Linked DNA regions of Homo sapiens. The protein of the gene in region 1 purifies or fractionates together with the protein of each later gene. This does not show direct contact. Each region holds a gene or a part of one and is shown in the gene's direction. Other genes may lie near its edges.

What was found.
Region 2: the proteins of DCAF8 (region 1) and ARHGEF26 purify together in Homo sapiens (affinity purification with mass spectrometry; 2 studies listed by BioGRID and IntAct, with this or other methods). This does not show direct contact.
Region 3: the proteins of DCAF8 (region 1) and ACAD11 purify together in Homo sapiens (co-immunoprecipitation; 3 studies listed by BioGRID and IntAct, with this or other methods). This does not show direct contact.
Region 4: the proteins of DCAF8 (region 1) and AMPD2 purify together in Homo sapiens (co-immunoprecipitation; 3 studies listed by BioGRID and IntAct, with this or other methods). This does not show direct contact.

Annotation. Positions count from the first base shown.
Region 1 is NC_000001.11:160,252,534-160,259,555, reverse strand, and holds part of DCAF8 (DDB1- and CUL4-associated factor 8), read left to right. Parts: intron 1-7,022. UniProt on the Homo sapiens protein: May function as a substrate receptor for CUL4-DDB1 E3 ubiquitin-protein ligase complex.
Region 2 is NC_000003.12:154,116,537-154,124,389, forward strand, and holds the start of ARHGEF26 (rho guanine nucleotide exchange factor 26), read left to right. Parts: upstream 1-4,853; 5' UTR 4,854-4,983; intron 4,984-5,405; 5' UTR 5,406-5,456; coding exon 5,457-6,539; intron 6,540-7,853. UniProt on the Homo sapiens protein: Activates RhoG GTPase by promoting the exchange of GDP by GTP. Required for the formation of membrane ruffles during macropinocytosis. Required for the formation of cup-like structures during trans-endothelial migration of leukocytes.
Region 3 is NC_000003.12:132,649,808-132,656,829, reverse strand, and holds part of ACAD11 (acyl-CoA dehydrogenase family member 11), read left to right. Parts: intron 1-2,159; exon of another isoform or gene 2,160-2,400; intron 2,401-7,022. UniProt on the Homo sapiens protein: Acyl-CoA dehydrogenase, that exhibits maximal activity towards saturated C22-CoA.
Region 4 is NC_000001.11:109,615,170-109,622,851, forward strand, and holds the start of AMPD2 (AMP deaminase 2), read left to right. Parts: upstream 1-4,667; 5' UTR 4,668-5,099; coding exon of another isoform or gene 5,100-5,109; intron 5,110-5,744; 5' UTR 5,745-5,938; coding exon of another isoform or gene 5,939-6,006; coding exon 6,007-6,097; intron 6,098-7,682. UniProt on the Homo sapiens protein: AMP deaminase plays a critical role in energy metabolism. Catalyzes the deamination of AMP to IMP and plays an important role in the purine nucleotide cycle.

The DNA of each region.
Region 1 (7,022 bases):
TTTTTTTTGTTTGTTTGTTTGTTTTTTGACGAGTCTTGCTCTGTCACCAGGCTGGGGTGCTGTGGCGCGATCTCAGCCCACTGCAACCTCCGACTCCCTGGTTCAAGCGATTCTCCTGCCTCAACCTCCCGAGTAGCTGGGATTACAGGCATGCGCCACCATGCCCAGCTAATTTTTGTATTTTTAGTAGAGGAGGGGTTTCACCATGTTGGCCAGGGTGGTCTCAATCTCCTGACCTTGTGATCTGCCCGCCTCAGCCTCCCAAAGTGCTAGGATTACAGGTGTGAACCACCATGCCCGGCCAAAGAGTTCTTTTTTCAGCTCCACAGCTGGACCGTCTTAATAATATGACAGCACAGATGAAGAGTTTTAAACCTTTTGTTGGCTTTTCTTTCGTATCTTTTTGGCAAGGGCACATGAAAATTAAGTACTGATAATATCACAATGAAAGCAGCTGTGTCATTCAGACCAGTGACCATTTTAGGTTTGATGAACTTTTCATTACCATCATCCAGGGTCTAAATTCTCCATTGTAAGGTAAGGATTCTCCAGGGTGGTGGTGAGGTGGGTTGAGATTGCATTTGTATCATTTGTGTTTTTATGAACTCTGAAGATCCATGTCGGGTGAAGGAAAGGATGGGAGGAGAAAAGGAAATACTTTGAAAGAGGGATAACTTGGACTGTTTATTTCCTTATGTGCTGGGTAAGAATGTCCAGGTGACATCTATATGTAGTAAATCAGTATTTCTAGTCTGTGGACCACACTGTAAACTTTTTATCTTTCTAAAGTTTTTTTTATTTTTGTAGAGATAGGGTCTCACTTTGTTGCCTAGGCTGGTCTCAAACTCCTGGGCTCAAGTGATCTTCCCACCTCAGCTGAGTAGCTGGGACCGCAGGGGCATATCACCATACCTAGCTAATTTTTGGTTGTTTTTTTTTTGTTTGTTTGTTTTTTTAAAGAGATGAGGTCTTACTTGCCCGGCTCAAGTGATGCTCCCATCTTGGCCTCCCAAAGTGCTGGGATTACAGGCATAGCCGCAGCACCCAGCTTGAAGATATTTTTATATTTCCAGGGTTTTAGGTGTTTACTTAAGAATTGTGACATCTTATTAGGTAGTATTTCCTAGGATGATTAGAGTGGGAGGCTAAGAATGCTTGTGACCTTTTAGTTCCCACCACCAACCTCTTAAAGTGCAGTCTATTTATTTATTTTTGAAATAGGATCTCACTCTGTCACCTAGAGTGCAGTGGCACTATCATGGCTCACTGCAACCTCGACCTCTTGGGCTTAGGTGATTCTCCCATCTCAGCCTCTCGAGTAGCTGGGACTACAGGTGCACGCCACCGTACCTGGCTAATTTTTGTATTTTTTGTAAAGATGAGGTTTCACCATATTGCCCAGGCTGGTTTCAAACCCCTGGGCTCAAGCAATCCTCCTGCCTCAGCCTCCCAGAGTGCTGGGATTACAGGCGTGAGCCACTGCACCCTGCTAAATGCAGTCAATTAAATGTATAAGAATCTGCCAGGCTGAGTGCGGCTGGCTCATGGCTGTAATCCCAGCACTTTTGGGAGGCCAAGGTGGGAGGATCACTTGATCCTAGTTGTTCAAGTCCAGCCTAGGCAATATTGAGACCTTGTCTCTACAAAAAGTTTAAAAAAAAAGCCAAGCATGGGGCAAGTACTTGCAGTCCCATCTCCTTGGGAGGCTGAGGTGGGAGGATTGTTTGAGTCCAGGAGGTAGAGCTGAGATTGCGCAGTGATCACTGCAGTGCGCTGAGATTGCGCCTCTGCAGTTTAGTATGGGCAACAGAGCGAGACCTAGTCTCAAAAAAAAGAATCAGTTCCAGTGCCATGGTCCTTAGTGTGGAGTAGGACCAACCTAAGACAGAAGCTTGTCTACAGAGAGCTGAAAGAAAGCAGCCTCTTTGTTGCCAGTTTAAAACAATACTGGCATTTTAAAAGCAAACAGATTCTAGTAGGAGACATTGTATAGAAGCGCACCCTGTTGTGAAAGACTGGGATCTTGAGTTTCGTGCTCTAAGTCTTGTATTCTATCAGGGGAGTAATAGGCTTTTAAAATCATAAAGTGACTATTAAAATGCTTTCAGTAGATAGATTCATTACTCCATTATTTCTACTGTATAAAAGTTTATTCTAAACATGTCTAGGAAATATCCAGATTATAAAAGAGAAATAACGGTATCCAAACCAGACTTTTTATTGCATAACATTGGTGTTAGAGTTAGTTTTTAAGTCTCTGAGATTGAATTAGCTTTTTTTTTTTTTAAAGCAGATTATCAGTGAGCTAAGATAATCTGCTGTTTACCCTCACCTATTTGGAACACAGGCAACTGAATTAATTGAATCAGCAATAGGCATGGGGTAGTGACTTTGTATATTTTCATTTTAGAGCCAAAAGCCAGTGAGTTTTAGATTAGCTTTATAGTAATATTAAAAACTTCATCTTTTATTTTTACAAATGTAGCCAAGAAACATCATTGCTGTTAAAATCAGTCAGAAAAGGAGGCTACTTGCTCTTTATTGATTTAGTCATTCTGCTCTTGGAGTGAGTAGAAAGTCTTTGAAAGCTTTTCAAAAATTAGCGAGTGATGAATTTTATGAATTAGTCACTTCTTTGCAGCAGTTTTTTTTTATCTCTACCTCTGTAGGACATAGTTCCTGGGCCAGAAGCCAGATTTCTCAAGTACCATCTAACCCCAGGAATGTGTTATGATACAGATAAATTAATGAACGGAGGCTGCCTTGAGGTTGCCAATAGGGCATTGGGGAGTAATTAATATGACAAAGATGTCATCTTATTAATGAAATGTATTAATAGTATGTCTAGTGGATTGGGTCAATGCAAACATTTTAGATTAGATATTTGCTGTTTATCCTCTGAAGTTACTGTTTAAGGAAGTCTGGCCAAGTTCTAAAGTGAAGCATACATATTTGCCTCACGTGCCATTTTTTTTTTTCTTCCTGGCTTTTTCTTAGCCATCTGGAAAGCTACTATAGGGTTTACCTCTAATGGTAGTCAAGTTACTGTATTCCTCTGGTGTACTTTAATGATTGCCACATTACCAGGTATGTTTTGTTAACCTTACTTAGAATCCAACATTAGACCCTTTCTTCTAACCTAACCTGTAGGAAGGCACTTCTTGAGGTTTTAAGCCTCTCTTTAATGTTTTATTGTAAGTTGTACCTTGGGAGCATCATTTTTTCATCTTAAATCCTCTCCAGTTTAAGAAAAATTTGAAATATAAATGGCAAAAACTGTTAATGGCAACAGACTTCTGATGTAAATGTAAATTGAGATGGAAACAAAATGAAAAGTAGATTTCCCTAGGAATTAGTTAAACTGAGATAAATGGTCCTGGATGTTTTTATAGAAAGTTCTCTTAGCCAGGTGCAGTGGCATGTACCTGTAATCCCAACTACTCGGGGGGCTGAGTTGGGAGGACTGCTTGAGCCCAGGAGTTTCAGGCTGGCAACATAGCAAGACCTTGTCTCTTAAAAAAAAAAAAAAAAAAAAAAAAAAAAGTTTGCTTAGTTCTGCTGCTGGAAATTAACACTTAAGGGTTAGAGTGCATTCCTGACATAGTCTGAAATACTGTTATTAGAATTAAAGCCAGAGGCCATGCACGGTGGCTTACATCTGTAATCCCAGCATTTTGGGAGGCTGAGACGGGCGGATCACCTGAGGTCAGGAGTTTGAGACCAGCCTAGCCAACATAGCAAAACCCTGTGTCTACTAAAAATATAAAAATTAGCCAGCTGCAGTGGCATGCACCTGTAGTCCCAGCTACTTGGGAGGCTGAGGCGGGAGAATTGCTTGAACCCAGAAGGCAGAGGTTGCAGTGACCCAATATCACACCAGTGTACTCCAGCCTGGGTGACAGAGTGAGACCCTGTCTCAAAAAAATAAAAATAAAAAAACAATAATTAAAGCCAGTAAACTATAAACACTGGGCATTTTATGTTACCAATAGGGAGAGAAGGCATTAATTCAAAGAAGGAACAAAGTTCCTTATTCATAGTTTGAATCCTCATCATTATCCATGGTGATTGCTTTGCAGTCTTCCATCTTGGGTATCCTCAGAACCTTCAAGAGGGAGAAGAGGCCAGGTGTGGTGGTACATACCTATAATCCCAGCACTTTGGGAGGCCAAGGTAGGAGGATTACTTGAGCTCAGGAGTTTGAGACCACGCGGCAAGATAGTGAGACTCCGTCTCTACGATAATAATAGTAAAAAAATCTATTTTAAAAATTAAAAGAGGGAGAAAAACTTAGGGAGGCTTATATTGTGGGTTCCTGGGTAGATTGTCTTACTGCAGTTCGTAGAACATGAATACTTGAAAGAAGATATTAACGGAGCTCTCTGAATTCTTTAAAACGCCAGAAAGGGTAAGCAGATTTCATAGACTTGGGACTGTGTCCTATATTATATACGATGTTTGGAGAATCATTGCTGAGTGGTAAAGAGGTCCAGGATTTTCTAGGAAATGTAGTCTGGTATAGAGATGGGAAACTAGAAAAATAATATAAATGGCTACTATGTACAAACAGGCTCTTAGCATACATTATTTTTAATCCTCTAAATTCCTGCAGGGTGGTAATATTATCCCATTTTACAAAAGAAAAACTCAAAAGCAGGTGGTAGAGGTAGAATTCAAACCCAGGTCTGTTTGACACCAAAGCCCTTTTCTTTCTTTCATAACACATGCTGTCTTTAAAAATAGGACTTTTCTTTTTTCTTTTTTTTTTAGATGGAGTCTTGCTTTGTCGCCAGGCTGTAGTGCAGTGGCATGACTTGGCTCACTGAAACCTTCCCCTCTCGGGTTCAAGCAGTCCTCCTGCCTCAGCCTCCGAGTAGCTAAGACTACAGGCGCATGCCACCATGCCCAGCTAATTTTTGTATTTTTAGTAGAAATGGGGTTTTACCATGTTGGCCAAGATGGTCTTGATCTCTTGACCTCGTGATCCACCCGGCCCGGCCTCCTAAAGTGTGGGGATTACAGGCGTGAGCCATGGTACCTGGCCAAAAAAAAAACCAGGGCTTTTCAAAGCCAAGAGATGAAGCTGAAAGGTAGAATTAAATATTTCTTATAAACATATGTATATAAATTATTCAAATGACAGTAGGAATACAAACTTTTTTTATTGTTTAGACATAGTTATGCTATATTGGTAAGCTAATGAGTTTTTAAGAAAACAATTTTTTTTTTTTTTTGAGACAGAGTTTCGTTCTTTGGCCCAGGTTGGAGTGCAGTGGCACAATCTTGGCTCATTGCAACCTCTGCCTTCCAGTTTCATGCGATTCTTCTGCCTCAGTCTCCCCAGTAGCTGGGATTACAGGCATGCACCACCATACCTAGCTTATTTTTGTATTTTTAGTAGAGACGGAGCTTCACCATGTTGGCCAGGCTGGTCTCAAACTCCTGACCTCATGATCCGCCTGCCTCGGCCTCCCAAAGTGTTGGGATTACAGGCATGAGCCACGCACCCATCCCAGGAAATAATTTTTATAGATTTAAGAGATAGCTGAATCCTAGTGTTTTATGATTCTTTACTGGAGAGAAAATCAGCATTCCATTCAATCTCTGAGATAATTCCAGGGGAAAAGCTGTTCTGACTCTTACAGCCTTTTGACAGTATACTGTTCTCTGTATTTTTTTGGAAGCATGGACTATCCTCCTTACCTTCTTGGTTTTTTTGTTTGTTTTTCTGAGACAGGGACTTGCTCTGTCACCCAGGCTGGAGTGCAGTGACCCCATCACAGTTCACTGCAATCTCGACCTCTGGGACTCCAGTGATCCTCCCACTTCAGCCTCCCAAGTAGCTGGGACTACAGGTGTACACCACCACACCCTGCTATTTTTTTTTTTTTTTTTTTTTTTTTTTTTTGAGATGGAGTCTCACCCTGTCGCACAGGCTGGAGTGCAATGGTGCGATCTCGGCTCACTGCAACCTTTGCCTCCCAGGTTCAAGTGATTCTCCTGCCTCAGCCTCCTGAGTAGCTGGAATCACAGGCGTATGCCACCGCGTGTGGCTAATTTTTGTATTTTTAGTAGAGACAGGGTTTCACCATGTTGGCCAGGCTTGTCTCAAACTCCTGACCTCAGGTGATCCACCCGCCTCAGCCTCCCAAAGTGCTGGGATTACCAGCGTCACTTAGACGTCAGCCACTGTGCGCAGCCTAATTTTTAAATTTTTTCTAGAGACAGGGTCTCCTGATGTTGCCCAGGTTGGTCTCAAATTCCTGGACTCAAGCGATCCTCCAGCCTCAGCCTCCCAAAGTGCTGGGATTACAGGCATGAGTCACTGCGCCCAGCCTATCCTCACCTTGAAACCTTTTTATTCTTGACTTCCAGAGGTTTAATTTTGATTATTCGTTCTTCTCAATTTTTCTCTCTGCTCTCCTTTCTCTTCTCTAAGGGTAGGTATTCCTCAAGATTCTTCCCTTGAACATCCTCTCCCAGAGCCTTCTTAGGTAACTAATTGTTTGTTTTAGTGAGATATGATTTACAAGGTGTTTGATTTTGAAGTTTCTCTGTACAGATAATTCACAAGTCTGTATCTCTGGCCTTACTTTATTTAAGTTCCAAACTTAAATTTGTTCGTCAGTACCTTCCTAACATGTCGGCTTGGATTTTAAATTTATTCAGAATAATTTCTCATCCCACCTGCCAGCTTCTCATTTGTGTCACTTGATTTTCTCTGGGCGCCAGACTAAGAACTTGTCCTTCTTAACTCAGCTTTGTAACTGCTTATTGAGCTAAACATTATCTACCTTTACAACGATTCTCATGTTGATCCCTTTTTAATTCCTTTTGCCATCAACCCAAGACAGCCCCTCATTACTTCTTATCTTGGCAACTATAATAGCTTTTAAACTTGTTTCTCTTTCCTTTTCCTTCATTTCAGTCCATCTTATTATCTTTGACAAAATAATTTCTCTGATGCCTGACTGCCTGCCCCCCAACAACAAAGCTTTTATTATACTTCTTAACTAATCAAC
Region 2 (7,853 bases), on another chromosome or scaffold:
TAAATTTTGTTTTTATTATTGAGATTGAGTATATTTTGATGTATAGTGGACATTCATGTCTTCTCCAAAATGCTTATTCTTACTCTGTTCATTTTACAACTTTCGTTATCTTATTCTTATTGATTGTATGATACAGCCACTTAACACTTTGTCATATATATTTATATATTTCAATATATAATATATATATTTAATATACAACATATAAATATTTAAATATATATGACAAAGTGTTAAATGGCTATATCATACACAAACCTATTTATATTTATATTTTATATATATTTAAATATTTTTCTCTAATTTCCTTCTAAGAGAAGATTTCCCTCAAAATGTATGGGTTTATGTGGCTTTTCTTAATGCACAAAGGTTAAAATGTTTAAATTGTCAAATCTGTCAATGTTTTGTTTTTTATTTCTGACACTGGTGTCATCATATTCATTTTTTAGAAGATGGCAAAGTTTAAATCTCTTCAAGGAGTATGTATTAGTCCATTTTCACACTGCTATAAAGATACTACCTGAGACTAGGTAATTTGTAAAGGAAAGAGGCTCAATTGACTCACAGTTCCATATGGCTGGGGAAGCATCGGGAAACTTACGCTCATGGCAGAAAGTGAAGAGGAGGCAAGAACCTTCTTCACATGGTGGCAAGAGAGAGAAGTGCAAGCAGGGGAAATGCTAGACGCTTATAAAACCATCAGATCTCATGAGAACTCACTCACTATCATGAGAACAGCATGGAGGAAACTGCCCCCATGACCCAATCACCTCCCTCCATGAACACATGGGGATTACAATTTGAGATGAGATTTGGATGGGGACACAGAGCCAAACTGCCAAATCATATCAGAGTAGTTAGTTGTCATTCAGGTAAAATCTCAATCCCTCAGTCTCTGTTGCATACCACATTCTATTCTCACCATATTCAGCCAAATTAACATCCCACAACTTCTAAAAGCAAACTGTGTTTTGGTGAGCTTAGTTTCTTGTATGTTTTGATGCATGGGCTCTGGAGTATTGTAAAGAAAAAGTTTAGGATTCTGACTCAACCAATTATCAACAGTATGAGAAGAGCTTTTTGGGCTTCAGCTTCATATTTAAGTGGGCTCAGAACTAATGTGAGATTAAGTTATGTGTAACAAACAACAAAGCTTAAAATACAGTTGGCACTTAATGAATATCAGTTCTCCAGCCATCCCTCCATGTTTTTGCTTATCCTGGGAAATCTTTCTGTGACATCATTGTCCGCTTCTCCACCTTGCAATACTTTATCTACCCTTCTGGGCCAGTTTTATCCAGACTCCTTCACAAAGGTTTCCATAGAACAGAGAGCTTACTATGCATCTTACACAGTTTGGGTGTCTTTTATTTTAATGTTTCAGTCATGTTTCATGAGCCAAACTGTAAGGTTCAGGAATGTTTGTCTTAATGCTTGGCACTTGAATGCACCCAATAAATAGTTGTTGAATGTATAAATAAACAAAAGGTACACGGGATGGGAAATACTGGAAAATTGGACATATATTGTAATAAGACTAGCTAACAATTTGCATTTAAAAATTAGCCAAATTATTGTGCTTGGGACACAAAATTTGTGACCAATGTGAATTTGTTTAGTAAATGTAGCCATATATATCTTGCGTTGTACCATTGAATATTCTAATAGTTCAATATACCATTGGAATATACCAGCGGAAAATATCATTACAAATAGTTTGACATACTGTATTTCTTCAATTTTAAGAATAATTTGGTACCACATTTTAATTTCTTTGAAACTGGGATGTGTCTTACTATCAAATAAACATCCAGTGGCCAGGTGATAGTGATGATATAGTTGGCATTGCCTATTTTTGAACATGGGCATAAATGAATTGTTATCATTTCTACTAAATTCTATGAAATTTAGTCCTGTTGTGTCAAAGCCATATGCCAAGAAACATAGTTGAAGGCAGGAGAAATTACCAGATATGACAGATTAGGTGAAAGAAATTCTAAAGCAAAGAGAGGTTGATATAACCAATTCATGTATCATGCAGGACTATGGTTAAGGCATGAAACTACCATTTGTGAGAAACTTTCTCCTGGCCATTAATAGAGAAGCTGCATAGCTTGTAGTGACATACAATTCAGTTGAACAAGAAAACTATGTGTTTAGTCAAATGGGATAGTGCCAGCATCACAACTGCAGAATGAGTGTCATTGTCTAGGAGGCAAATCCCAGAAACAAGATTGGAACATCCTTTTAAGAAATGGTGCACTATCAACAATATTGTGTGGAAAAACACACATGAATGCTTTTCATGAAAAGGTATTCAGAAGAATCAGGCTCAATGTTCGGGACTTTGGTAAATTCATTTTGCTTATATTTTCCTTTCCTACATACACACAGTACTAAGCAAATCTATGTATAAGTGTCTAAAAGCACTAAGTATAAAGTAAAAATTCGATATGACATAACATATTGTCATAGTTTTATTAGCAGCTCTTTTCCTTTCTTTTGAGTGGAACATATAATTGAAGATAGGTTAGATTTGAATAGATAACAATAAATTGAATAGGCACTAGGTCTGTGAGTTTGTAAACTTCCCTCAGTGAAGGACCAGAGCTTGGTGTTTTGTTGTTGTTTTGGTAGGTATTTTGTTGTCTGTTGGAAATGAGGTAAGAAGATCCTATGAAGTCGTCACAAATATTGGTTATACTTGTTTGTAGAAGCAACATAATTTCAAGAAAAGCCACCTTCTCACATCACCTTTTACAGCTTCTTAACATAGGTCACAGGTTGCATTTTGAATTAGGTGAATACTCCATTTGTCAGTCGGTAACCACTTCTGAAATTAATTTATTATATTTCCCCAATATAACAGCAATACATGTTGGTATAGAAAACACCTTATATTAAAAAAAAAGTCTATGTACCTACATGTGAGTATGTAATCAGCCATGTCTTCCACCCAATGTGGAAAATTTCTTTCTTAAAAATTTTCTTAGGCCAGGAGCGGTGGCTCACACCTGCAATTCCCAGCACTTTGGGAGGCCAAGGTGGGTGGATCACCTGAAATTGGGAGTTCGAGACCACCCTGACCAACATGGAGAAACCCTGTCTCTACTAAAAATACAAAATTAGCCGCGCGTGGTGGTACATGCCTGTAATCCCAGCTACTCGGGAGGCTGAGGCAGGAGAATTGCTTGAACCCTGAAGGCGGAGGTTGCGGTGAGCCGAGATCGCATCATTGGACTCCAGCCTGGGCAACAAGAGCAAAACTCCGTCTAAAAAAAAAAAAGTTTCTTATACATTTTTCGATGCCGTTTCTTTTTTTCTTTGTTTATGAAAATGTCTCAGATCAAAGTAATATATCTTCATTGTCCAGGATATTTCGTTAAGTATAGAAAAATATAAAGCAGCATGAAACATACTATCCTTCATCTCACCACCCAGAGATCACATCTTAATATTTTTGGCCATTGCATTCAATCTAGGGCAAAAACAGGCAGCATAACTTGCACACAGTGGATGCTCACTGCATCCCTGCTGAATGCATGAATGCAGAAAGAGAACTTGGAGAAGGGCCCATTTGTCTTGCTAATAGAATCAATTATACAGCTCTTATGGTCTAAAATTATTTGTCTTCTCAAGTTTGCCTCATTATTGTCACACAGCAGGAGCCTGGCCAAGACACAGCCATCTTTCTACTATTTGACAACCAAGCACTTTGGAAGGAATGGTCACTGTTTTCACTTCATTCCTGTCATTCATTCTCTCACTCATTAAATAAATATTAAGTGCCCACCATGTGCCGGAAATACGGAGAAGAAAAAAAAACATGACCCCTGCCCTCATGCAAATTACTGTGTAAAGACAAAAGACAATAAACATAAACACATAAATATATATATATACAAAATTTTATAAGTGCAAAAATAGAAGAGAACAAGTGGCTGGGAAAATAAACGGGGCAATGGTATAATTAAGGAGGGGACAGGGAAGGCCTTTCTGACGCAGTGACAAGTCGGGTCAAGAAGGAACGAAAGGGAAGGTTATGAGGCTGTCAAACTTTGAGTGTGGCCAAAAAAATAATGAAGAAAGTGATGGAGGAAAGACTAGGCTGAAGAAGTAGGGCAGTAGTGAAGTGTCTTGTAAGCCATGCTAAGGATTTTGAGTTTTATTCTATGTACTGTTGGAAACCAATACTTTTTTTGTAGTGTAAATTGAGCTTATTTTTCACAGATAGGTTTCAAGATGCAAAGCATACAAGGACCAAAAATAATTATATGAAAACTCTCCCTCCCTCCGGTTTCCTAGCCACCCAGTTTCCCTCTTCAGAGCTGCCAGTCTTTCCTACGGAAAGACTCTAGGCACAAACAAGCCCATCTATCTGTTTATATTATAATGCATTTTCAGCACTGGGACGAGCCCATCTGATTTAAGACCACCTGAATGCTGAGAGGGCATGACTCTGCGTTAGAACTCTGCGCTACTGCCCACGCATCTCACAAAGTCTACTACGCCGCGCGTTCTCGGTTTCAACGCACCTCCAGGATTCAGGGCTTCCTAAGCTGCAATTCAGCAGGGCTCCCTTGCTTGTTCTCACTCTGTGCCCCCGGCAACGACCCCGCGCGCCTACACTCCCGTGCCGCCTCAGCTACTAGTCCGCAACTTCTAGCCCCAAAACGCTGGAGCTCAGAACCCAGCTCAGGTGCGCTCGTCGGTTTCCCAGGGAGACTGGGGCTGATTGTAGGCACGCGGGGGCGGGAAGACAGCTTCTTGCTTCTGGCTGCGATGGAGGCGGATCTGGGCGGGGCCGAAACGGGGGCGGGGCCAAGTGTGGGGGCGTAGTCAGGCGTGGGGGCGGGCCGGCGCCGGCGCCGCGGTCGGCGGCAGCGCTCTCCTAAGCTCTCGCGGCTGCGCTTCGGTCCCGGACCCGGGCCACCCACGGGGTAGTGGGTGCTCCTCGGCCCCGGACATTGCAAGCCCCAGAAGGTAAATTTGCGTGGGAGCCGCGCACCTGGAGCGCGAGGGTACCCATGATGAGGGCGGGAGGCTGGATGGCGACAGAAGGGAGCGTCCCGCGGCGAGTTTCCCAAGAAAGCTGAACTCGTCCCAAGTTTCTTGTGCCTCGGCTTGCACTCAGTGAATGGGTGGCGGGCTCATTTGCTGCGGGTGGTCTTTTGGCGCGGGAGGGACGCGGAGGTGATTGGATTAATCCGCCTGGGCGGCAGCCCAGATTTCTGCCGGGAACCGCGCACCGCAGTGGTGCAGTTTTTGCCCGAGAAAGGGCGGGTAAGTGCGGTGCAGTCGTGTCCTGCGCAGCAGCAGGGGGACCGCCGGTCTGGGAGCACGCGAGTCGGCCAGGCGTCCCCGGTTGTCCAGAGGCACAGTTTCCTAACTTCTTTCCTCTTTAGGCAAGACTAACTCGGTGTTGCTCCTCCCGGCGCTGACTTCGAGGCCCGGCTATGGACGGCGAGAGCGAGGTGGATTTTTCTAGCAACAGCATAACCCCTTTGTGGCGGAGGCGGTCGATTCCTCAGCCCCACCAGGTTCTGGGCCGGAGCAAGCCGAGGCCCCAGTCCTACCAGAGCCCCAACGGGTTACTAATTACGGATTTCCCGGTGGAGGACGGAGGGACGCTCCTCGCAGCGCAGATTCCCGCCCAGGTGCCCACCGCCTCGGACAGCAGGACGGTACATAGGAGCCCCCTGCTTCTGGGCGCCCAGCGGAGAGCGGTGGCCAATGGTGGGACGGCATCCCCGGAGTACAGGGCTGCCTCTCCTCGACTTCGACGGCCCAAGTCACCCAAGCTCCCCAAAGCGGTGCCTGGCGGCTCCCCGAAATCCCCAGCAAATGGCGCGGTGACCTTGCCTGCGCCGCCGCCGCCGCCGGTTCTGCGCCCCCCGCGGACTCCTAACGCGCCCGCCCCCTGCACCCCCGAGGAGGACCTTACTGGGTTGACTGCCAGCCCGGTGCCTTCGCCCACTGCAAATGGCCTTGCCGCTAATAACGACTCTCCTGGGTCAGGTTCGCAGTCCGGCCGGAAGGCAAAGGACCCCGAACGGGGGCTCTTTCCTGGGCCCCAGAAAAGTTCTTCGGAACAAAAACTCCCCCTCCAAAGGCTGCCCTCCCAGGAGAACGAGCTCCTCGAGAATCCTTCCGTGGTTTTGAGTACAAACAGCCCCGCCGCCCTCAAAGTGGGGAAGCAGCAGATCATTCCGAAGAGTCTGGCCTCGGAAATTAAAATAAGTAAATCCAACAATCAAAATGTGGAGCCCCACAAGAGACTCCTCAAGGTGCGCAGCATGGTGGAGGGCCTAGGAGGACCCCTGGGTCACGCAGGGGAGGAGAGTGAGGTCGATAACGACGTGGATAGCCCAGGGTCTCTGCGGAGAGGCTTGCGGTCCACGTCTTATCGCAGGGCAGTGGTCAGTGGCTTTGATTTTGACAGTCCTACCAGCTCGAAGAAGAAGAACAGAATGTCCCAGCCTGTTCTGAAAGTGGTGATGGAAGACAAGGAGAAGTTTTCCAGTCTGGGAAGGATAAAGGTAAAAGTGGGCAGGAGTGTGGCACGCCATTCACTAAGCGGAAAGTAAATGTGTTGGGAGTGGGGAGGAGGAGCGTAGAGGAAACCCGAAGAAGTCATTCCGTTTTAATTCTGTGTTTTGCTCTTGATTGCTAGTGTACATCCAGCTCTTGGCCACTTTGATGCTGGCAGGCACAGCCGAGTTTAGTGCAACTTTGTGGGAAGAAGTGAAATTCATCACTTTTAAATTTCTAAGCTCAGGCAGAATTGGGGGGGACAAGAGTGAAATATGGCAGATTATTGGCTGAGTGAGTCTTTACCACTTTTAAAAGAGATAGCTGAAAGGGGGAGGAGCATGTTCAGAACCGCACTCTGCAGTCAAGTTGTCTGGAGTTTGCTTAGAGGTTTCAGTCAATGATAGCTGTTATCACAGCTGATTCAGAAAAATACTGATTCCTGTTTGAGCCTGTTGATTATTTTTTGCTTTTACTTACTGAATTTTGAGTGGTTACTACGCACTTGATGTCATTCAGGTAGAATGTGAATTTGAAAATCAGTTGCCAGGATCACAAAAGACATAAATATTTTGTCATCTTTTTTGTTGCTTGTTTTTGTCACCGTGGCCTTTGGTTGTGTTTTATTCCCGTTGTATGCCCATTCATCCTTGAGTGCATGTAACAGATTGGCAGCTGAAAACTTAAGGTTAGGGTGGACACTGTGTGGTATTGCTCCCCTATATTGTCCCATTAGCTGCACTTATTAAAATATTGTCAAATATGACATAAAGAAACAGGGAAAACTGAAGAGGGGTATTTTGGAGTGTGTGCTTCCTTCCACAGAAACAACACAGGTTTCAGCAATAAGGCAGATTCTTTTTGGCAGCCACATTTTTTCTTGGTTAATCAGAGCACTGGAACCAGTCTATATAAATGGCACATATGCAAAACACAAGCAAGCCTGTTTTATTTTAGAGCCCGTGGTCTTAAAGAAAATAAATTACATAACATTTTATGTGTTTTTTCCAACTCTGCAAGTATAGCAAAGTTCAATTTAACAGTGATGGTGAATCACGAGTTGTAAAATGAGCTGACCTGCTAGTTATTTGAGGATTCTCAATCTGTTTTGACAGGGTGTGGGGGATCTTGTACATTTTATTTCATTGTTTCAGTGAATTGTAGTGATCAAATGAGTGAACTCCTCCAGGGCTCAGCTTCTGTGCGCTCTTGGAAATCTAATTAATGTAATGACTAAAAAAAAGTATTTTTACTTAAAATAGCTGTATTTTCTATTTGGCTCATTCATACATAGTTTGCTTTTCCTTTTTTTTTTTTTTTTT
Region 3 (7,022 bases), on another chromosome or scaffold:
TCACACCACCAAATTGACTTTTAAAAAATCTGACAATAGACTGGGTGCAGTGGCTCATGCCTGTAATCCCAGCACTTTGGGAGGCTGAAGCAGGTGGATCACCAGAGGTCGAGTTCGAGACCAGCCTGGCCAACATGGTGAAACCCCGTCTCTACTAAAAATACGAAATTAGCTGGGTGTGGTGGTGGGTACCTGTAAATCCCAGCTACTCGGGAGGCTGAGGCAGGAGAATTGCTTGAACCTGGGAGGCAGAGGCTTTAGTGAGCTGAGATCACAGCACTGCACTCCAGTCTGGGTGAGTCAGAGGCAGACTCCGTCTCAAAAAAAAAAAAAATCTGACAATATCAAGCATCAGGATATGGGGCAACAGGGACTCATATAGGGGTGTGAATTAGTATAGCTGCTATTGAAAAATAACTCAACATGATCTTGTAAAAATGAAGTTGGGAAGATACACATGACCTATGACCTAGCAGTTCTACTCATAGATACATACTCCTGAGACTTTTCTTGTACTACAGTATAAGGGGACAATCTACAAAGATGTTCATTGTACTGTTTGTAATAGCAAAAATCCAGGAAACAACACAATGTCTATAGATACAGAATGGATGAATAAATTGCAGTATATTCACATAATGGAGTAGCATACAACAGTGAAAATGATTCAGCTACAGCTGTACATAACACAGAATGAAAAACGTGAAGAAATTAACAGTATATTATATACAGAGATAAACTTCAAGGGAATGATAAATATAAAATTCAGAATGGTAGTCACTCAAGGGGAAGGACATACAGGGTTTCAAAGACAGTAATTTTCTCCGGGTAGTGAAAATGGTGTTTGTGGCATTACTATTCCTCATGCCTTACCAATTTCATAAATACTCTTTTTATCTGCAAGATTTACTTTTAAAATTTGCAAAAATTAAATCTTATTGGAAAGATAAAATATTTAGAATTAATCAATAATGAAAGTATTATATAGCTTGATACAACAAAACTTGTGATTTGCAGCTGAGTGCCTAATATGTATCTGGCACTGTATCAACCACTGAGGATGTAACAATAATCTTGCCTCCCTGGAACTTCCATTGTATTTGTAGAAGACAGACAGGAAAATCAGCTTCTGAACTTTACAATGTAGAAGTTGATATGTAACATGGAGGAAAAGAGAATAGGAAATGTTTGGGTGTGGGGCAGGAAGATTTCCTCGAGCACACGGCATTCAGCAAAGACTTGAAGGGGGATGAAAATGTGAGCCATGTAAATATCCAGGAAAAGAGTGTTCCAGACAGAGGGGACTGCTAATGCAAAGGCCCTGGAAGGGATGTGTGCCCAGTGTGTTGAGGAAACACAGCCCAAATGCCTGAAGTAGTGTAAGCAAGGGCAACAGGGACCCTGTCAGGCAATAAAGAGACTTTGGCTTTTACTTTGAATTGAGATGGAGAGAGACTTAAAACATGCTTGAGCAGAGGAGGGAAGTAATCTTTAAACAAACAAACAAACAACAACAACAAAAAAAACAGAATCTCTGCTTCTTGTGTTGAGAGTTGACTGAAGGGGCCAAGGGCAGAAGCAAGGACACCAATGTATTACAGTGTTCCAGCAGGGAGATATCAGTGGCATAGACCAGAGTGGGAGTGTAGAATGGGTAAGAAGTGGTCATAGTGTAAGTATATAGTCACATGCTGCATAATGACGTTTTGGTCAATGACGGGCTGCATATACGGCAGTGGTCCCATTAGATTATAATACTGTGTTTTTACTGTACCTTTTCTATGTTTAAATGTGTTTAGATACACAAATGCTTATCATTTTGTTACAATTAATTGCCTGCAGTATTCAGTACAGTCACATGCTGCACAGGTTTATAGCCTAGGAGCAGCAGGCTGTACCACAGAGCTCAGGTGTGTCCTATCGGGTTCAAATCAGCCTATTTATGCTAACTCCAACCAGCTGAGAAGTTTCACAACGAATCAGTGCCAATTAAATGCTTAGGAATTCACGATTTATTGTGTGGCTTCTACACAACAATCATGTAACTCTATCCAACACACATAGGCATTAATAGAGAAGGGAAACACAGCAAGTATTCTGGGAGACCAGCACACTGACTGAGAAAACCAGGTTTGGTTTTCCTCAGAATGCCCACTGACCTGGTGGTGGGTAGCTGCTCTTTTCCCAGAGGGCTTACCACAGCCAAAGGAAAGGAGGCCTCAGAGTTCTCATGGGCAGAGATTCTGCAGGCATCTCAGCCATGATTGGCTTTTACGGCTCTCCACAGACATCTCCATGGCCATTATCTTCAGCTGACTTTTGGCTTTACTTTCTTGTCAGGTGTCAGGGATGCCTGGCCACAGCAGATGCTATCTTATCACCTCAGTCCACCACACATATGCTTACTACTCTGAGTGGTCAGTGATTTCACTGTAAGCTGAGTCACTTGTCATAAGTGACTCCATTATGAGACATTTATGATCATAAAACATAATTATATATCAGTGCATAATAGGCTATACCATCTAGGTTTGTGTAAGTGCACTCTAGGATGTTTACACGTGACAAAAATCACTTAACAACATATTTTCCAGAACACATCCCTGTCATTAAGCAATGCATGACTGTATTTTGAAGGGTTTACTAACTGATTAAATGTGGGCTAGGAAAGGAAGAGACGAAGATTATTTCATTTCTGCCTTGGTAACTGAAAGAATAGGGTTATTGTGAACTGAAATGTAGGTGACTATAGAAAAGCAGATTTGAGGGGGAAATTTGAGGAACTCAGTTTTGGAGTGTTAAGTTTCAAGATGCCTTTTAGACATCCAAGTAGATATGTATAGTAAGCAGTTGGTTATGTCTTGAGGTCGGGGCAGAGATCTGGACTAGACATATAAATTTGAGAGCCATCGACAAAAAGAAGATATTTAAAGACATAAGATCGAAGGTCTTACTTAGAAAATAGTTCACATAAAAAGGAGGTTTGGAGACTGAGTCCAAGGCACCCCAATATTAAGAAGTTAGCAAATTAAGAGAAACCTACAAAGGAGTCTTAGAAGAAGTGGCCAAAGAGGTGGGGGAAAACCATGGTTTGTATTAGTGATCTTGAAAAAGTAGTATTAATGGAAAGAAGGGAATGAAAGCTTGATTGAAATGGGTTTAAGAAGATAGGAGGAGGACGTGTAATCTCTTGAGGAGTTTTTCTACGAAAGGAAATAGAAATGTTTTAAGTAGGGGGGAAGTGAGGTCAAGAGAAAGCTTTTTAAAAAATAACATCATATTTGTATGCTGATGACAGTAATCTAGAAGAGAAAATTTTGTGTAGGAGAGAGGCCTGGAAAGAAGTCCTTAAGAAGGCAGGACTCTAATATGCAAGAGAAGGGGTTGCCCTTAGATAGAAATGTGCACGTCCTTCTGCAGACTTTGGAGGGAAGACAGAATATATGTGTACAGATTATTGTATGCAGTAGATACAGTAGTGTAAGCTTGTGGAAGTTCTCATCTGATTGCTCCTATTTGCTCGTTGAAATAGGAACCTAGGTAATTAATTAGCTGAGAATGAAGATGGAGAAGAAAGTGTTTGAGGTTTGAGGAGAGAGAATTATGAAACAGCCATCCAAGAGAATGGGAGAATAAATGAGCTAAGGAAATATGATTGCCAGATGTGGTTCACTTTGAGGTTTGCTGAGGTCATGAATTTGAAGCAAGAATAGATATTTCAGTAGATATTACTAATGCTTTGTCCAGATCCTCTTGGATCCCTTTCTAGTGTTGCTGTACATGTCCTGCCTTTGTTGGTTTTTGCTTCCAATAAACAGCATCTATGCCTCTTTTTTTGGTAAACTGCCCTCAGGCTATTGGAGCACCCTTTGCTCTTACTGTTGTAGTACCTGAGGTGGACCTTAACCAATAGTGATTCAGAAGTATGAAATTTTCATTATCCTTGCTTCAGAGACATGTTTTGAACTTTGACACGGCAGAGTTCCCCCATTACCTTTACCCCCACCTACACACTGGTGAGATCAGGCTGAAGCTACCCTCTAAGGGACTTTGTCTTAGATCACACCTTTGCTTAGCTTTCTCCCCTTTCTTGACCTGCTTCCCCAAATTTCTTATTAGTTCCCCAAACATTTCCTTAATAAGTCACTTGTATATAATTTTTTTTCTCATGATCTGTTTATTGGGAACCTAACCTAAAACAGTAATTATGACTGTATGTGTCTTTCTTCAGCTATGGCCAGTTATATCAGTGTAAGCAAAAAAAAAATGGATTTAACATGGATGGGAGTTTTGCCAAGCAAACACCATGAAGTGAGGAAAGGGCAAGTGAAGTATACTGAAGGTGTATTCAAGGTAGTGGTTATATGATTTGCTATCAAATTTAACCTAGTTAAGGAAAGATTTATTAGTCTGTTCTCATATTGCTAATAAAGACATACCCGAGACTGGGTAATTTATAAAGGAAAGAGGTTTAATGGACTCACAGTTCCACATGGCTGGGGAGTCCTCACAATCATGGCAGAAGACAAAGGAAAAGCAAAGGGATGTCTTACATGAAGTCAGGCAAGAGAGAATGTGTACAGGGGAACTCTCCATTATAAAACCATCAGATCTCATGAGACTTATTCACCATCATGAGAACAGCACAGGAAAGACCCACTGCCATTATTCAATTACCTCCTACCAGGTCTCACCCATGATACATGGGAATTGGGAATTATGGGAGCTACAATTCAAGATAAGATTTGGGTGGGGACACAGCCAAACCATATCATTCCACCCCTGACCCTTCCCAAACGTCATGTCCTCATATTTTAAAATGAATCATGCCTTCTGACAGTCCCCCAAAGTCTTATTTCAGCATTAACTCAAAAGTCCACCGTCCAAAGTCTCATCTGAGACAAGGTAAGTCCCTTCTGCCTATGAGCCTGTAAAATCAAAAGCAAGCTAGTTACTTCCTAGATACAATGGGGGTACAGGCATTAGGTAAATATACCTGTTCCAAATGAGAGAAATTGTCCAAAATAAAAGGGGCTACAGGCCCCATGCAAGTCCAAAATCCAGTGGGACAGTCTTAAAGTTCTAAAATGATATCCTTTGACTCCATGTTCACATCCAGGTCACAGTGATGCAAGAGGTGGGCTCCCACAGTCTTGGGCAAAGGATATGGTCGGGGGATATGAGGTGAATGGCAGTATGATCAATGGATGGTAGGTCAAGTATTGATTGAAGGATTGTTGGAATTGAGGCACTAGCAGGAGTGAGTGGAAAGGTAGGAGGTTAGAGGTAGAAATGTTTAGAAACTAGGATTATTCAGTGCTTTTACTGTTGATATTGCTAAAGTGTAGGGTGTAACTCCTAGAATTACTGGCTGAGATAGTGTCAAGGAAAATATCACTGGTGGAGAAAATTCAAGGAACTGATGGGCCTAAATGTTAAAAGGGACATCTGTGTAGATTTTGAAATCAGTAATTAAGACAGGAGTAGTGTTAATGAGAGTAATAGTGAATTATGCCAAGATCCTTAAGAAATGAGGAGAAATGATCTGAGAGTTAGTAGGTGACTGCAAGAAAAAGGGGTAGAGGGTGGCAGAGTCTCATGGCCTGAGATTCAAAGCTGAGGGAAGAATTTACACAGGAGGGAGAGCAAAGAGTCTGGAAGTAGCAATGAGTTTCAGGAAGGATACAGACTCCATCCAGGCTTACTAGAAGACTGATGTGGGAAAAACATCTACCACTTAAGAAGCCTACAAAGGAAACAGGATCCTCATGGAATATTCAGGTTTTAGTTAGAGCAAGGAGGTGAAGGGTCTATTCAGAGAAGATATTGAAGCTGTATGGAATTGTGAAAGACTGTGAGTTCCAGGGGCACAGTGGAAGGATATCAGGAGTTGAGGGGGTGGAGAAGATGTGGGAGAAAATAGGGAATGTGCAGAGCCTTATGGGAATTACAATGCAGTAAACAAGTATAAAAGGGGAATTTGGGACTTCTGGTATTGATGATATAAAGAGGGATAAAGAACACAATGAAACCAGTTCCGGTGGTCTCAAGGTAGTAGTGCTGTCAGTGATAGGAAATGGGAAGTTGTAGGTATGTATTGGGGCTGGGGAGGGACAGTCTTACACTAAGTTAAGTAGTCTGGACTCACTGTTTTTCTTATTTTTTTAGTGATGCCAACTTTAAAAGCCTTTGTCCTCTATCATGAATTGTACTTTCTACCTATTTATCATGTGGATAAAGTGCAACTGTATTTCCTTACCCTGTGTATATTCAGATATTCAAAATGTCTAATAATATATGAAATAGCAGCCCAAGTATGATTTTTTAAAAAAACTGTCACTAAACTGACTTCCTACAAATCAGAGTAGGATTTCATGACTGTGTGTTCATGTTCAAACTTCATGTTGAGTTTTGGTTGCCTTATTCTGTTTCTGTAGTCATGGTTCCAGAAGACACACCTCTAGAGGATGGGCAACCACTTCTAGGGAAGTCCCTAGCAAAGCACCTAGCATGGTGCTAGCTCTGTTACACTGTGATAACGGCAGGGTTTTTACCCTCTCCAGCTCTTTTGGCTGATGTTAAATTCTTCCTTCTCAGTAATGAGATTCTTGACCAGTCATTGATGACTCCATTGCACTTGTCAGGAGTCTTGTGTTTGACTTCATCTTTGATTCTGCTTTGCCGTCTCTCATTTTTCACTGTGGCCTATTGAATACATAGGATCTGAGCAACTTCTTACAAGAAACTCTGTCTCTTTGTTTCTCGTTTTCCAGCTTTGTACTTCTATGCCTCTTGGACCAAATACTCAGTGTTTCCATGGGCAAACACTGGGTCATTTGTCTTTTAATCTTCTTTTTTCCTGATCTCTTATCAACAGCAAACACATTTGAGATGCTGTTGGCATCAATATAAAAAGTTATTTAAATTTGTGGAAATCCAAAGGGTTTAGGAGGAATGCCCGTGAGTTCAAATTTGCCGGGCTGGTTGTTATCCTTCATCATTGCTCACTCAATTTTGTAAAC
Region 4 (7,682 bases), about 51 Mb from region 1:
ATTTACAGACTAGATTAACTGAGACTTGAGAGTTAAGTAACTCATTTAAAGTCAGCTGGGCATAGTGGCGCATGCCTGTAATCCCAGCACTTTGGGAGGCTGAGGTGGGTGGATGACCTGAGGTCAGGAGTTCCTGGCCAACATGGTGAAATCCCGTATCCACTAAAAATACAAAAATTAGGCCGGGCATGGTGGCTCACGCCTGTAATTCCAACACTTTGGGAGGCCAAAATGGGCAGATCATCTGAGGTCAGGAGTTCGAGACAGCCTGGTCAACATGGTGAAACCCTGTCTCTACTTAAAAAAAATACAAAAATTAGCCAGGCATGGTGGCAGGCACCTGTAATCCCAGCTACTTGGGAGGCTGAGGCAGGAGAATCACTTGAACCCGGGAGGCACTGCACTCCAGCCTGGGCAACAGAGCAAGATTCCGTCTCAGAAAAAAAAAAAAAAAAGAAAAGAAAAGAAAAGAAAAAGCCCAGCATGGTGGCATGCACCCAGCTACTTGGGAGATAGAGGCATGAGAATCGCTTGAACCCGGGAGGTGGAGGTTGCAGTGAGCCGAGATTGCGCCACTGCACTCCAACCTGGGTGACAGAGTGAGACTCTGTTTCAAAAACAAAAAAACAAAGTTATATGGCCTAGTAAACAGACAAACCGGTGATCCTTCTTTCTATTACTTCCACATAAGTAGCCAGAGAGAGAAAGCATGGACAAATGCATGAACTCTATAACAGCAGCCCTTGTTAAAGGAACCACTAAGTTGTTTCACACACAGGGAAAGTGGGCTTGTTCCTTTTTCTGCTACTACCTCTGCAAACTTCTGTGCTGCTTCTGCTTTGTTCCCTAACTTACTGGATGGAAGTTCCCCTTTCTCACTGCTAAGCTGAGAGAGGGAACTGCTAGCCCTCGCCTGGCCTGAGAGTACAGATCCATTACTGTGCATACATCATCCTGATGTCTGTGACCTCCTGCCTCTGCCTCTATCGTCAGTTCCTGTGCCTTTCCTGTGGCTGTCCCACTTTATGATCACATTTACGAACAGTTTCCTGATGAAGTAAATAAGGTATGTAGTGCTAGTTCCATTTTGGAGGTGAGTGAACTGAAGTACAGAAAAGTGATCCTCACATTAATAAGCAAGTTGGTATCAGAAGCCAAGCCAGAGCTCAGGTGTTTTGATTCACAGCCCTTTATAACCATTATCATTTTGAATGAAAAGTAAATCACTGTTTCTTAGTGATTTGGGCATGTTTCCTGAGTTAAGGGATCTGTCTGACATCCGTGGTAAGCCTTGTCTTAAGTGAATTGTGGGTAAAGACTTGTCCCAGATGGAGTGGGAGGACATGAAGGATGAGGAACTACCTTCAGGACCTTCCAGTCCATAGGCAGAGGTGGGGGAAATTCACAGAAAAACAAATGAGTTAAAGGGATACTGCAGTAGTGCTGGGAAATTCAGAGCTGTTTAAGACCTAGCATTCACCCCTGGTAGGAAAGGCAATCAAACACACATCTGACTGTCAGACTGACAAAGTTCTACAGCGGAAGAAAGAAAAGGGTGATTGTGAAATGAATAGACTTTCCACAGAGAAGCAGAATAACAGTGGAAGTGGGAGATACGCATTTTGGGGAAAGGAAAGAGCATGAAAAAAGAGGTAGAGGCACAAAGTACAAGGTGTGCTCAGAGAAGACTGGGACTTTGATGTGACTGGACTGGAGTGAAAGGTGCATGGAGTGGAGGGTTGGGAGGTGAAGATGAAGACAAGAAAGGGAAATTGGAGCCAGCCAGTGAAGCGCCTTCAATGGCAAGGGGTTTGACTAAAATCCACTGGGGTCTTATAAACAAGTATAGATGGAAACAGCTGTATGGTGCTATAAACACAATGCTGGGTGACTGAGGTGAGGGGGAGAGGGAGCTGGCTGCTGGGAGAAGCTGAGAAACCAGAGCTGAACAGCTTGTTTCTAGAAGGGCCTAGGCATAAGGTATGGTTTGGGAAATTGCCTTGGCCAAGGACCTTTTTGGAGCTGCAGATATTCTCTCCCAAGTTTAGTATCTGTGAAGATTGTTCTGGCCTAGCTAGGGAGGCGGACATCACAAGTGAGCTGAAGTCCAGAAGCAAAGAAAAGCACTTCTTCAGAGAAACAGGAGTGCACCATCTTTAGGGAGCTGGGATTCCGGGAGGGCCAGTTAAGGAGCCATGTGGGGAACAGGCTAGGAGGGGAGGAAGCTGTGTTTGGAGCTAGGGAATATCTCAGAGGCTCAAAGGCAATGAATGTTAAGGCCTCAGTGTGAAAAAAGCCCAGGCCATAGGATGACTCACTCCTTTATTTCCCAAGCTCTGTTCTGCGTAGACAATGAAACCTCACTGAGATTCTTGCTGGTATGGAGTGGGTGGAGGGATTGATGCCTAACTATAATCAGGGCCGACTTCCTAGCAGCAACAATACACCAGATGACCTGGAAATAGGGGAGGGTTGTAGAGTGAAGGGTGTGTTGCAGATGGGACTAGGGGACTAGCATAAAGGGACTAATGAACTGGTTTGCCTGGGCTGGGTGGAGGGCAAGGATTGCCACCTATTGGCTGCTGAGGTAGGTAGGTCTGCATTAAGCAGGATGCTCAAGAGACCTGGCCCAATGCAAGATACTATCTTTAAAACTATGTCAACATTTGCATCTTATCAGAAGATACATGACATTTATGTAGTTACATGGTGCTTGATTTTTGAGATTCATTTTATTCATTCTTGAGAGTCCATCAGCCTCAAAATCCCTAAGCGCCCCAAGACCAATTCAGTGGGCCATAAATGTAAACAGAATAGTTTAAGTCTGGGGTTAAGACCCCGGGAAGGCTGGGTTGGGGGGACTGTGGAGGCAATTACAGATTTTTACAGATTTTTGTTGATTTCTATCCCCTTGATTATAAAAGTTATGGGTATGTATTATAATTTCTAAAATGCAAATAAATATAAAGAAAATAAATATAACCCATAATTCCATCACTACAGATAATCATTGGTAAACTTGTTGGTGTGTTTCTTTTCTACCCATGTATATCACATAAGTAGGACCATACTGTGTATAGTGTTTTGCATCCATTCTTTTACCTAACTTTATATTGTAAACATTTCCACATCATTAAACATTTCTCCAAGAACAATTTTTAATGGCTGTATTTCATGGTATGAATATTACATAAACATTCCCCTATTGTTCGACCTTTAAAGTATCTAACTTTTCTATGCAATACACATTGTGGTGCTGAACAACTTTTTGCATACATATTTTTCTGGCAGCTCTTTTTAGAAAAACAACTTCCAGAAAGTTGATTACTGGGTCAAATAATAAGAACCTTTTTGAAAATTTTGATTCTATATTACCAGATGGCTTTCAGAAAGATTATATCAGTGTTCAAGGCCACCAGTAATGTGTTTGTGCACATGTACGTGTGTGTGTGTCTCCCATCTCACTAACTATACCCTTGCCAACCTGCATTAGCGTTTATTTTTTGGTTTTTTGTTTTTTAGTCTTTGCTATTTTGATTAGGTAAACCTGGTTATCTCTGTTCTCTTTTTAGTTTTATGGATTCTGTGTGAGGTGAAGAGGCCAAGTTTTTTTTAAGTTTGTTCAGGGAACAGTAGCCAGGGATCAATGGAAGTGGCACCAGATGCAGGTGGAGAAAAGGGTTCAGGGTCCAGAATCCAGCGTGGGGAGAGAAGAGGGAGGCAGAGTTTGGGAAGGATCTCTGCTGTGGGAGTGGTAAGAACTGGGAGGAGCCAGACAAACAGCATTAGAACAACTGGGTGTGGGGGGCAAAGGCCTCCCACAAGAGGGAAAATAGGGAAGAGATTAATTCCTGCTAATGCATTTAATTATATTCAGTGAAGTCTTAGGGACTTCCCTCCACAAGTTCCCTTTAGGTCGGATTATCTACCCCTTGGCAGTGGGGATGCTTGTTGGATAGACCCCAGAACGGCTGCAAGTGAATCAACCTGTGAGTGTCAATAGAGAACCAAGGCCAAGGCTAAAGCAATGGTAATACATGAATACTGAGTACTAACTACAGGCCAGGCACAGTTCTAAGCAGTTAACTTATATTAACTCATTTATCTTAACCACCATATAAAGCAGGTACTCTTACACTCATTTTACAGACGAAATAGAAGCACAGAGAAGTTAGGTAACTTGCCCAGTATCAGTCAGGAAGTAGGTGAAATCTGGATTTGAACCCAGACATTCTGGCTAGAGTTAAAGCTCTTAACCACCAAATACAGAAATGTGGGAAGGGGAGCCAGAATTGCAGGGCACAGCCTCCTACCTACGCCGGCCGGAAGAAAACAGACGACCAAGTGAGATTGCAGGGGCAGGACTTCTGCTTAAAATGAATCCTGGGACAATGATAACAGCTACCTTTCACTGGGCCCTCACTTCGTGCCAGGCACTGTGTAAAGGGACTTTACGTTTAATCTTCACAGTAACCCCTTTGAGTGAGGTACTGTCATTACCCCATCTTACTGATGAGGAAGCTGACGCACGGAACTGGCCCAAGACCCAGGGTCGGCTCAGGCCAGCCCTACCGCGGTGTGGTGGCTGCCCACGTGGCGCCCAGGAAGAGAAAAAAATGGCGAGGCGGGGTCGGCAGGCGGAGGCGGGGCCAGGCGGGGGCGGGGCCAAGGGCCGCAGAGCCTGGCGCGGAGCCGGCGAGATTTTGGTGGGGTCTCACCTGTTGCGTGACTCCCCCACAGTCCGGCCGCGGGAGTCCGACCCTGAATGCCCAGGGAGTGTTGAGAGAAATCTGGACGAGTTTCGGGTCCCGCTCCCTTGGGAGCACGTGGCCTACCAGCCTCTCGATTGCAGGGTTGGGTGGTCGCGACACCGGGGTCGCCTTGAGGCCAGTCCGGCTGCCGAGGTCTGCGGGAGTCCACCTCCGGCCAGCTGGCAATTTTGAAAGACTGCCTTACTTTCCCCATCTCAGTGCCAGGGCAGGGGCCCTTGGAGTGACTTGGCTGGGGTCTGTGGCCCGATCCCCCTGCCGTCCCTCAGGACCCGGGCTTTCTGCTGTACAGACTTCTCGTGGGCAGCCTCCCCTCGGAACTCGGGCATCATGGCCTCAGGTGAGTGTGTGTACGTGTGTTGGAGGGAGGGTCTCTGGGACAGAGAAGTGCTGTGGCCAGAGTGACAAGAGGGTGGGAGTCACAGCACAGCAGCAGGACCTAGGGAAGGCGGTCAGCTCCTCCCAGGAGGGCCTGGGGAGCAGAGCCAGAGTGTGCAGAGACAGAGGAAAAATCCAAAGAGGCTAGGGTCTCTGTCCCAGACCCCCAGACAAGGGGGTCTCCTGGCCTTCCTGCCTTCCTGGGAGGTAGCTATTTGGCGACGGTGGAATTTTCCCGGGACAGGCCCCTCCCTCCTGGGCTGGGATTCTCGGTTCTTCCCCCTCCTCCCAGAGCTGGGCTACCCCGGGAGCTGAGGGTCAGATGTGGAAGGAAAGTGGGTGCTGGGTTTTCACGGAGTATGCCTGCCCTGCCCCGGGAGGACTGTGTTTGAGCTTGGACTCGCTCGCTGCTGAATTCCTGTTTGTTATTCTTTTTTCTTCCAGGCTAGCTGGAAGGACCAGCTAGCCTGGACTTTGGCTTCTTTGCCCGGGAGCCCTGGCATGATGGGGTGAGGGCTCTTGGTGGGTTAGTGGAGAGCTGGGGGCTGGCCCTTCCCCATCTTCTTTTCTACCCACCCCCTCCCCGCCCCCCGCCAGGCCCAGCCACCATCAGTCACGTCACTCCTGGGACTGAGGAGGCAGGGGAGGGATAAGGGGCAGAGATGGAGGCCCCACTCCCCGAGGTTGCCTAGACAACATGAGAAATCGTGGCCAGGGCCTCTTCCGCCTGCGGAGCCGCTGCTTCCTGCATCAGTCACTCCCGCTGGGGGCGGGGCGGAGGAAGGGGTTGGATGTGGCAGAGCCAGGCCCCAGCCGGTGCCGCTCAGACTCCCCCGCTGTCGCCGCCGTGGTCCCAGCCATGGCATCCTATCCATCTGGCTCTGGCAAGCCCAAGGCCAAATATCCCTTTAAGAAGCGGGCCAGCCTGCAGGCCTCCACTGCAGCTCCAGGTGAGTGTGTGCTTCCTGGCCTCAGGATAGATGCTGGGCTCTGTCTTGCCACCTCTCGCCCAAGGTGCTGGTCCCCTCAGAGGGGGCCACCTCCTCCGGCATCCTCTCTGTGGTGGTGCCCCTCAACCTCAGTCCCAGGGACAGCCGGCTTGGAAGGTGGGGTGAGGGGTGGTGGGGGGCGGGGGGTGGATCTGAGATATCTGTGCCAGGGATGCTGTCCTCTGTCACAAGGAGTGGGCATGGTGTGGGTGCAGCAAGAGGTGTGTATGCACACGTGTCAGCGTGTGCATGTGCTAAGACTGCGTGTGAAGCATGTGTGAATGGAGCGGGGGTGTGTGGGACTGACTGTTTTGTGGACTGGCCACTCTGACTGGCGCCTGTGCCTTTACCAGGCAGGCTTAGGCTGTTCTGTGGCTAGTTCCACTTTTTAGGACCCCACATCTAGATCCCCCTCACTGGGGGTCTGACATCTGGGCACAACCATTGCTGGCTGGCATCCCACAACTGGGGGCTTGACTGTATCTATCGTTTGCTATTTGCTCATTCCTGGTCTATATTGTGAGCCTCCTTAGGAGTATGGGGTGTCCTTGGTCAGGTCCGTGCAGGGTTCAGGCTGGGGCTGCTGCCCGCACTGTGTGTGCTTCTGCACCCTTTGGTTCGTCTCTCACTCTAGTAAGCATCTCTGCATCATTTGGAGCAGGCAGTGAGGTGCGGCAGTGCCTGTCTCAGTGAGGGCTTGGCTGCCTGGCTCTGTGCTTGCAGAGGGATATCTGCCTGCTGTCTGCTCCCAGGCCTTGTGGCTAAGGAAAGACCCACCCTGACTTTGATGACCAGATCATGCCGACTGCCCCCACCCTTGCAGCTGTCTGTAGCTATAGCCCAAGTATCAACCTCCTATATTTTTTTGTTTCATTGAAGATGACTGGTGCAAGGTCTCTACTGTCCTGAGGGTGTTCTCTGTGCCCAGGTCTGTGCCATCCAGAAAGGGTGTCCCCTGGGTGGGGCCCTTCCTGGCCCTGTTTGGTTCAGCAATAGGGCAACTGATACGGATCTAGCCCAGAGCTGGAGACCCTTCGGTGGTCAGATGGTAAGAGCATCTGATACTTGTGGGGTCAAAGCCGTGGACACCCCTGTGCCTACTGAGGCAGTCGTGGCAGTGTGTGAGGGGCTCCTGGTCGAGAGGGGAGATGGGGTGCTCAGAATCTCAGAGTTGGTGGGAGTGGCTCTGGAGCAGCCCACTCTGGCTTTTGCTTGACTTCTCCGTAAGTGTGGGTGTATGTGTGTGGTGCTGACCCCTAGAGAAAGGACCAGTAGGCAGCTGAGTCTTCTAGGCCTGGCCTCTGAGAACGTAGCGGTTACTGCCCGTGTGCCACCTTCAGTGAGCCTGCGGCAGCCCTGGAGAGTGGTCTGGCAGGCTGGGGGGATGGCACTGGCTGTTGGAATCTGTCCTGCTCACCCCAGGATTGCTGTGGAGCCTGAGACCCCCCTGCTAGGAGAGGGGGTTGAGATTTGAGCCTTTGACTCAACTCCTGCTGACCCAATATGAACCAGCCATGGAGGTCTGTGGTCGGCCTCCCCTAGAAGG